Linked DNA regions of Homo sapiens. The protein of the gene in region 1 interacts with the protein of each later gene in a biochemical or structural test. Each region holds a gene or a part of one and is shown in the gene's direction. Other genes may lie near its edges. The genes, in order: NME1, FBXO24 and PRUNE1.

Region 1 (3,208 bases):
ATGGCCGCCACCTGTAATCCCAGCTACTTGGGAGGCTGAGGCAGGAGAATCACTTGAACCCAGGAGGTGGAGGTTGCAGTAAGTCAGGATCACGCCACTGCACTCCAGCCTGGGTGACAGAGGGAGACTCTGTCTCAAAATAAATAAATAAATAAATAAAATTAGCCAAGTCTGGTAGTGTGTGTCTACAGTCCTACCTACTCGGGAGTCTGAGGCAGGAGGATCACTTGAGCCCAGGAGTTTGATTTTTTTTTAAATGAGATAGCTGGATTTAATTTTAATGTTCTGTGGTTTTATTATCAGTCAGTGCCAATAGGGAGACAACTGATATAAAATTGGAGAAGTACATTTAGTCCTGTCACTGCTCCCTTCCAGTGTGGAGAATGAATTGGGTTATAACAGAATCAGTGAGCCCAACCGCTCATGTTTTACATAGCAGGGTGGATGAGGGGAAATTAAATGGATTATATGTCCTTAGATGGTTTGGGGGTTATTCTCATTCTCTGTCCTGTTGAATAGGCTTCCGAAGATCTTCTCAAGGAACACTACGTTGACCTGAAGGACCGTCCATTCTTTGCCGGCCTGGTGAAATACATGCACTCAGGGCCGGTAGTTGCCATGGTGAGTGTGCCTGTGTGGGATACTCCAAGTATGCATTGCTTGTCATCTGTGCTAGGCTCTCTTCTAGACACTGGGGATACAGCCATGAATGAGACCAAATAGATACCTGTTTTCATATACCAGCTAATGGTTAGTGATAGGCTTCAGAAATGAAATATGCCCAGAAATGAATAGGAGTAGCAAATGATCACTTTAGATTGGGTGATCAAAGAACGCAATTTTTAAGCTGTGATCTGAATGACAAGAAGCAGCGATCTGAATGACAAGAAGCAGCCAGCCATGTACAGAATCACAGTGAAAAACATTTCCAGCCAAGCAAACAGCATGTGCAAAGGTCCCAGGGTGGGAATGAGCTTGGCTTTTTGAAGTACGGGAGGAGAGTTGAAATGCCCGAAGCCTGATGGGTGGGAGGGAAGTTGGGAGGTGAAGAGTTCAGAGGCATGGGCAGGGGCCTTCTCTCTTAGGGGTGTGTTGACCATATACTTCCTGAGTGCTGGGAAGCTATGGGACACTTCACACTTGGCATTTCTTTTTTTTTTTTTTTTTGAGACGGAGTCTTGCTCTGTTGCCCAGGCTGGAGTGCAGTGGTGCCATCTCGTCTCACCGCAAGCTCCACCTCCCGGGTTCACGCCATTCTCCTGCCTTAGCCTCCTGAGTAGCTGGGACTACAGGCGCCCGCCACCACGCCCAGCTAATCTTTTCGTATTTTTAGTAGAGACAGGGTTTCACCATGTTAGCCAGGATGGTCTCGATCTCCTGACCTCGTGATCCACTCCCCTCAGCCTCCCAAAGGGCTGGGATTACAGGCGTGAGCCACTGCGCCCTGCCCACACTTGGCATTTTAAGGAGGCTGCTCTGGTTGCTGTATGGAGAATACATTGTAGAAAGGCAAGCATGAGGGCAGGGAGATCAGGATCCTCAGTGCTGGAATAAGTGGATATACTCTATAAACATTTGTTCAGTGAATGAATATAATCTTAAGGGGCCTTTTTATTTTTCCTTTTTTGAATTAATAGTTGCCAGATTTTCTGCTGTGATTGGTTTTCTTCTTTGACCATATCTTCTTCTGTCCTTGGAGGTCTGGGAGGGGCTGAATGTGGTGAAGACGGGCCGAGTCATGCTCGGGGAGACCAACCCTGCAGACTCCAAGCCTGGGACCATCCGTGGAGACTTCTGCATACAAGTTGGCAGGTGAGATTTTGGTATTTTTCCCCCTTTTCCAAAATCTGATTTAGTTGCCACAAGGATTTGGGTTTCCGAGGCTGGAGGTAGACATGATACCATATGCAGGTTGATTTTATCGGAGTTTATTGTTTTCCTCCCTCTTAAGTTGGCGTTTGGCTTTGGTTGTTAACATCACTTAGTCGTACCTCTGTTACACGAAGTGTAGAACCTGGTACAACACACTTTGCTGGCCAGTCTTTCCTGAAGGCTCTCACTGTTTGCACCAGCGTGGCCGGGAGGGCTGGATGTGGGGAGGGCATTTTTCAGCCTTAAGTGAATGGCCATTGTAGGCTTTTTCTTTTAACATGGTCTAATGTCCATGGAGCTTCAGCTTTTATGCTGCTGTGGCTGTAGATTTCTGGCAATGGGCGCATTTTAATCCTTCTGGTCTTGGTCATGTGACTATCTCTTTCTCCACCCAGGAACATTATACATGGCAGTGATTCTGTGGAGAGTGCAGAGAAGGAGATCGGCTTGTGGTTTCACCCTGAGGAACTGGTAGATTACACGAGCTGTGCTCAGAACTGGATCTATGAATGACAGGAGGGCAGACCACATTGCTTTTCACATCCATTTCCCCTCCTTCCCATGGGCAGAGGACCAGGCTGTAGGAAATCTAGTTATTTACAGGAACTTCATCATAATTTGGAGGGAAGCTCTTGGAGCTGTGAGTTCTCCCTGTACAGTGTTACCATCCCCGACCATCTGATTAAAATGCTTCCTCCCAGCATAGGATTCATTGAGTTGGTTACTTCATATTGTTGCATTGCTTTTTTTTCCTTCTTTTCATGTACACTGAATAACCTGACCTAATAGAGAGTGTAAATACTATAAAAATGATTTATTTTGAGGTCTCACATACACACAGGCATTCTTTGCCTGCCCTTCTTAACCCCCGCATCCCTTCCACTCTTGGCACTGAGCTATTCAACAGGCATCTATGGAGCATGTGCTACGTGGCCAAGACTGGACTAGGTGCAGAGGATTCATCAGAAATGAAAGAAAACATGAGGGCTGGGTGTGCTGGCTTGTGCTTGTGATACCAGCTACTTGGGAGGCTGAGATGGGAGACCAGCCTGGGTAACATAGCAAGACCCTGTCTCACTAAAAAAAAAAAAAGAAAAATTAGGCTGGGTACGATGGCTCATGCCTTTAATCCCAGCTATTCAGGAGGCTGAGGAGGAGAATCGCTAGAGGCCAGAAGTTCAAGTCCAGGGTGGGCAACATAGCAAGACGCTGTCTTTACAAAAAAAAAAAAAAAAAATTAGCTCTGGTGCTGTGCACCTCTAGTCCTAGCTATTGGGAAGGCATAGGCAGGAGGATTGTGCCCAGGAGTCCAAGGCTGCAGTGAACCATGATCATG
Region 2 (2,798 bases), on another chromosome or scaffold:
AAAGAAATTAGCCAGGTGTGGCGGTGTGCACCCATAGTCCCAGCTACTCGGGAGGCTGAGGAAGGAGAATTGCTTGAACTGGAGAGGCGGAGGTTGCAGTGAACTGAAATCGTGCCACTGCACTTCAGCTTGGGCAACAGAGCGAGACTCCGTCTCTACAAAAAAAAAAAAAATGCTAGAGGCTGAGGTGGGAGGCCCGGAGTTCGAGATCACCATGAGCAACATAGTGAGACACTATCTCTATAGAAAATTTAAAAATTTAAAATTTAAAAATTATAGGCACATGCCGGGTGTGGTGGCACATGCCTGTATTCCCAACTACTCAGGAGGCTGAGGCAGAAGAATGGCTTGAGCCCAGGAGGTCAAGGCTGCAGTGAGCTATGATTGCACCACTGCATTTCAGCCTGGGCAACAGAATGAGACCCCATCTCTAAAAAAAGAAAAGAGAAAATAAAAATGCTAGAGTGGAGGCTGGGCTCAGTGGTTCATGCCTGTAATCCCAGCACTTTGGGAGGCCAAGGCAGGCAGATCACCTGAGGTCAGGAGTTCGAGACCAGCCTGGTCAACATGGCAAAACCCCTTCTCTACTAAAAATACAAAAATTAGATGGGTGTGGTGGCAAGGACCTGTAGTCCTAGCTACTTGGGAGGCTGAGGTGGGAGAATCACTTGAACCCAGGAAGGCAGAGGTTGCAGTGAGCCGAGATCGCACTGCTGCACTCCAGCCTTCCGACTCTGTCTCAAACAAAAAAAAAAAAAAGAAAGAAAGAAAGAAAAGATAATACTAGAGCAGGAAGGGAGGGATAGTGGAAGGGAAAGTCCTTCCTCAGGGTGGTGTTGGGGTCTAACCTGGAATTGCACAAGAAGCAAGTCTCCCCGAGGCTGGCAGGCAGGATGAGAGGCTGGACTGGCATAGACGGGTGGGCTGAGAATGAGGGGTACACCACAGCAGGCCCTGGGCTCAGGCAAGGAGCTGATTTTCTGGGGGCATAGATGAGATACCAACAGAAGTGCAAGACCCTATGTGACCAGTTAGAGTATGGGGGCTGCAGGGGTCAGCAGGGCAGACCTGGGGCGTGGGACAGTGCTGGCTCCCATTTCCTCCTCCCCAGTTCATTCTGCCCCGAGCCTTCCAGTCAACCTTTTCCCACCCCAGCCCCCCCGTCCCTTGGTGCTCCCTGCTCAGGGACCCTGGCCGTGTGTCCCCAGGTTTGTTACCTGCAGCGGCCCATCACCCTGTGGTGCGGCCTCAACCACTCCCTGGTGCTGAGCCAGAGCTCAGAGTTCAGCAAGGAGCTGCTGGGCTGCGGCTGTGGGGCTGGGGGCCGCCTCCCAGGCTGGCCCAAGGGGAGTGCCTCCTTCGTCAAGCTCCAAGTCAAGGTCAGAGCGGGGTCAGGAGAGTGGGCACCCAGGGAGGATGAGAGCCATGAACCAGGAAGCCCACAGGCTGTAGCTGGGGCTCCTGCAGGGACCCAGGGGGTCCCATTTCCCTAGCACCACCCCACCTCCCTCCTCTGCCGCACACCACGCTCTCTGCTTTCTCCCTTAGCAGACTGTGCTGGCCTTGCCCAACCTCACACACCCCTGGGACTTAGCCGGCTCAGGGCTGGTGTGAGAGGGAAGAATGCAATAGGCAGATTAGCCCGGGCACCCTGGGAAACCCTGCAAGGAAAGCACCACTCAGCCATGCCCCCTTTCTCTCCTCCTCCAAGGTCCCTCTGTGTGCCTGTGCCCTCTGTGCCACCAGGGAGTGCCTATACATCCTGTCCAGCCACGACATTGAGCAGCACGCCCCCTATCGCCACCTGCCAGCCAGCAGGGTGGTGGGGACTCCTGAGCCCAGCCTGGGGGCCAGAGCACCCCAGGACCCCGGGGGGATGGCCCAGGCCTGCGAGGAGTACCTCAGCCAGATCCACAGTTGCCAAACGTTGCAGGACCGCACGGAGAAGATGAAGGAGATCGTAGGGTGGATGCCCCTGATGGCCGCACAGAAGGACTTCTTCTGGGAGGCCCTGGACATGCTGCAGAGGGCTGAAGGAGGCGGGGGTGGTGTAGGGCCCCCAGCCCCTGAGACCTAATCCCCCTCATGCTAGCCTAGTCCCTGGAGGAGGGAGTCCGGCCCCAGGCCAGGGACTAAGGAGCAATGACCATTGTGCACATGCGTGTGGGAAGGGGTTGCTAGGGGGTGGGGACGGCTAACCAGGGTAAGAATGTTCAGGGGGCTGCCCAGGAGGGGCCCCCAACCTGACTATCATGGACAAGAGATTTGATGGATAGAATAAAAGGCTGCAGCGAGGCCTGGTGTGGAAGCCTTGGGGGCTGGGAGGGACAGGGGCAGGGATGGGGTGGGTGGGTGCCCGGCTTGGTGGGTGCAGGAGGGCAGGAGCCCAGGCAGGGGCAGGCAGCACAAGCAGCTCCAGGTCTCAGGTGCAGCAGAGCTGATGCTGCCTGAACCCTTCACATTGTTGTCCACTCCCTGCTCCCAAGAGCACACCTGGTCGTTTGGACTGGGAAGTTCTGGCCCTACCTTCTGGAACAACTCTATGCACAGATGCTCTTGGCTACCCCACTGGGATCCCCTGCCCACTAGACTTGTCCCCATCCTGAGGCAGCCTGTTCCTCCTGACCCCCGAAAGCTTCCCACCCATCTCCCTTCGGCCTGAAGCCAGCCCCCCTCCTCTCTCCCTTCTGTTTACCTCCCAGGTTTGGGCTCTATTTTCTACTCCTTCCACCTCTTCCTGAGTAACAAGGACACTCCCTTCATCCACACCCCATGCCTCCTGCCTTGCTTCCTGTACC
Region 3 (3,653 bases), on another chromosome or scaffold:
TCTAACCTCCTTGCAGATCTCCATGCTTTCTGCCAGGCTCACAGCTATGATGTCCTGGTTGCCATGACTATCTTTTTCAACACTCACAATGAGCCAGTGCGGCAGTTGGCTATTTTCTGTCCCCATGTGGCACTCCAAACAACGGTGAGTCTGTGTCCCTTCTCCAACCTAAGAGCCTTACAGAGTCTGCCTGTATGTACCTCTGTGCTCTACAGCTGTCCTATAAGGACCTCTCTTAGGTTCTTATATTAATGTACTTACATGAGGTCCCTTGACCTGTTTCTGGACCTGTTTCCTCCCCTTTCTGCTTTTTCCCATTCTCTCTCTATATGAATATCCTTTTTTTTTTTTTAATGAACATCCTTAATCATAGCATTGTTGAGAAAGGGGGAATTCCAAAGAGAACTAGAGATTCAATTCCTACTTTGAAAGAACGAAATCTAGTTAGAAGGAAATGTTATAAATCCGGAGTTAAAATTCCCTTCTTGAGCTAGGGACAGTGGCACGTGCCTGTAGTCCCAGCAACTCGGGAGGCTGATGCAGAAGGATTGCTTAAGCTGGAAAGTTTTTTTTTTTTTTTTTTTTTTGAGACAGTCTTGTGCTGTTGCCCAGGCTGGGGTGCAGTGGCACAATCTCGGCTCACTGCAAGCTCTGCCTCCTGGGTTAACGCCATTGTCCTGCCTCAGCCTCCCGAGTAGCTGGGACTACAGGCGCCCGCCACCACGCCCGGCTAATTTTTTGTATTTTTAGTAGAGACGGGGTTTCACCGTGTTAGCCAGGATAGTCTCGATCTCCTGACCTCGTGATCCGCCCGCCTTGGCCTCCCAAAGTGCTGGGATTACAGGCGTGAGCCACCGCGCCCAGCCGAGCTGGAAAGTTTGAGTCCAGCCTGGGCAAAGATAGCAAGACCTCATCTCTGTTGGGGAAAAAAAAAAACAAAAACTCTATTCTTGGTTTAATCATTAATTCCTCACCCCTGGAATTATGCTGTTGCCTTGAAAATTAGAAATACGAGAGACCTTTTCTGCTACTTACTATGCAGGGATTAATTATTCTGTATAGTGCAAACTCTGTAAAGAAGTGATCTAGATCCAGATTTGGCTATCTTTCCTACTTCCTCCCCCTTCTGTTCCTCTGCTGGTTACTGATTAGCCTAGGGAAGAATTTAAAAGTGGGCTTAAGGCTGGGTGCGGTGGCTCACACCTGTAATCCCAGCACTTTGGGAAGCTGAGGCGGGCAGATCACGAGAGCAAGAGATCAAGACCATCCTGGCCAACATGGTGAAACCCCATCTCTTTTAAAAATACGGAAATTAGCTGGGCGTGGTGGTGCGTGCCTATAGTCCCAGCTACTCAGGAGGCTGAGGCAGGAGAATCTCTTGAACCTCGGCAAGCAGAGGTTGCAGTGAGCCGAGATTGCGCCACTGTACTCCATCCTGCCAACAGAGCAAGACTCCGTCTCCAAAAAAAAAAAAAAAAAAGGTGGGCTTAAGGCAGTTCAGGGATTCTGAGGGTTGCCTAGGCTCTGTGAGGACTGCTAAAGACAGAATACAGCCAGATAATCCTTTGCTCTCATAGAAGGTATGTCTGTCCTTTCCCGCCCCCCTTTGCCTTTGCCTTCTCCCCAGGAAGCAAATCTGATTTCATTCAGTGTAAGGTAGTTCGTCATTATGAAAAGAACTGCAGTTTTGTCTGTTTGTTTGTTTTTTAAGATGGAGTCTCACTCTGTCGCCCAGGCTTGAGTACAGTGGTGTGATCTTGGCTCACTGCAACCGCCACCTCCCAGGTTCAGTCAGTTCTCCCACCTCAGCCTGTAGCTGGGACTACAGGCGCCTGCCACCATGCCTGACTAATTTTTGTATTTTTAGTAGAGATGGGGTTTCACCATGTTAGCCAGGCAGGTCTCGAACTCCTGACCTCAAGTGATCCACCTGCCTTGGCCTTCCGAAGTGCTGGAATTACAAGCCTGAGCCACTGCACCTGGCCAAGAACTGCAGTTTTTAAAGTCAGGTAGATGTGCTTTTCTGTTCTAGGTTTGCCTCTTACTCACTCTTTGAGCTAAGGCAAGTCAGTTGACTTCTGCATCTGGAAATGGCATAATAGTACCTACTGCTAATTCTGCTATGATCATTAAACGTAATATCATGTGTAAAGCACACTCCTGGAGCAGAGTAAGCACTTTGTAAATAGTGGCTCTTACTAATCCTGTCAGTAAGAAAAGGGTGCTTTGGCCATTAGAAGTACCTCTTCCACGTTCCTGAATCTTCTCCCCTCTGTGCTGCTCTTTTAAAGCTGTGTGGATTTCTAATGACTCTACCATTGTCTAGGTTGCCCCTATGCTTGGAAACAGGAGTCCTTCTCTCTCTGTTTTGTTTTTGTGTGTGTGTGTGTGTGTTTTTTTTTTTTTTTGAGATGTCTCACTCTGTTGACCAGGCTGGAGTGGTACAATGGCACTATCTCAGCTCACTGCAACCTCTGCCTCCCGGGTTCAAGCAATCCTCCCAGCCTCCCAAGTAGCTGCGGCTACAGGCACACCACCATGGCTAGCTAATTTTTTTTGTATTTTTTGTAGGGACAGAGTCTCGCTATGTTGCCCAGGCTGGTCTCGAACTCCTGGACTCAAGTGATCCACCAGCCTCAGCTTCCCAGAGTTCTGGAATTGCAGGTGTGGGCCACTATGCCCAGCCAGGAGTCCTTTTCTTACAGTCTACTCTACCATCTCCTCTCTTTCTCCTATGTTAGGGGTAGTATAATATATTGATTTAGAACACTGGCTTTGGTGACAGCTCTGGGCTCAGTGTCAGTTTTGCTTCATGCAAATTATGACCTTAGGCAAGTTACCTGATCATTGAAGCCTCAGTTTCCCTGCATGTAAGTGAGGGTAATAGTGATACCAGTCTTATTTTGTTCAATTCATTCTTTCTTCCTCCATCCCTCTTCTGGCCTCTAGATAAATTCTAGTTCCATCCTAGTTCAAGTTCTTGAGCACATTTATACACTTGGAAACGACACTAGATTAGAAGCTGGGGTTCCTCGGTTCTGGTTTAACTGCCATCATCTGCATGATTTTACTCACAACCATCTTACTTCGCTTTAGTTACTTTAATAATAAAATGAAATATACAATCTAAACTGTTTCCTCTGTTTTTAAAATACTGTGTATGGCTGGGTATGGTAGCTCATGCCTGTAATCCCAGAACTTTGGGAGGCTGAGCTGGGCAGATCACCTGAGCTCAGGAGTTTGAGACCAGCCTGGCCAATATGGCGAAACCCCGTCTCTACTAAAAATACAAAAATTAGCTGGGCATGATGGCAGGTGCCTGTAATCCCAGCTACTCAGGAGGCTGAAGCAAGAGAATTGCTTGAATCTGGGAGGCGAAGGTTGCAGTGAGCTAAGATCGTGCCACTGTACTCCAGCCTGGGTAACAGAGCAAGAATCCATTTCAAAAAAAAAAAAATTAAAGTAAAATAAAATAAATAAAACACTGTGTATGAATCCCAGCACTTTCGGAGGCTGAAGCAGGAGGATTGCTTGAGACCAGGATTTGGAGACCAGCCTGGGCAACATAGCAAGACCCCATCCCTAGTCTATTAAATAAAAAATACAAAATACTAAAATAAAATACTGTGGGCCAGGCTTGGTGGCTCACACCT

Evidence for each region.
Region 2: the proteins of NME1 (region 1) and FBXO24 form a complex in vitro, tested with the Homo sapiens proteins (one study listed by BioGRID).
Region 3: the proteins of NME1 (region 1) and PRUNE1 form a complex in vitro, tested with the Homo sapiens proteins (one study listed by BioGRID).

The regions. Positions count from the first base shown.
Region 1 is NC_000017.11:51,159,461-51,162,668, forward strand, and holds the end of NME1 (nucleoside diphosphate kinase A), read left to right. Parts: intron 1-519; coding exon 520-621; intron 622-1,699; coding exon 1,700-1,812; intron 1,813-2,267; coding exon 2,268-2,385; 3' UTR 2,386-2,708; downstream 2,709-3,208. Other genes in the region: NME1-NME2 protein, read left to right, coding at 520-621, 1,700-1,812. UniProt on the Homo sapiens protein: Major role in the synthesis of nucleoside triphosphates other than ATP. The ATP gamma phosphate is transferred to the NDP beta phosphate via a ping-pong mechanism, using a phosphorylated active-site intermediate.
Region 2 is NC_000007.14:100,598,823-100,601,620, forward strand, and holds the end of FBXO24 (F-box only protein 24), read left to right. Parts: intron 1-848; exon of another isoform or gene 849-980; intron 981-1,208; coding exon 1,209-1,379; intron 1,380-1,711; coding exon 1,712-2,077; 3' UTR 2,078-2,295; downstream 2,296-2,798. UniProt on the Homo sapiens protein: Substrate-recognition component of the SCF (SKP1-CUL1-F-box protein)-type E3 ubiquitin ligase complex.
Region 3 is NC_000001.11:151,028,801-151,032,453, forward strand, and holds part of PRUNE1 (exopolyphosphatase PRUNE1), read left to right. Parts: coding exon 1-144; intron 145-3,653. UniProt on the Homo sapiens protein: Phosphodiesterase (PDE) that has higher activity toward cAMP than cGMP, as substrate. Plays a role in cell proliferation, migration and differentiation, and acts as a negative regulator of NME1. Plays a role in the regulation of neurogenesis.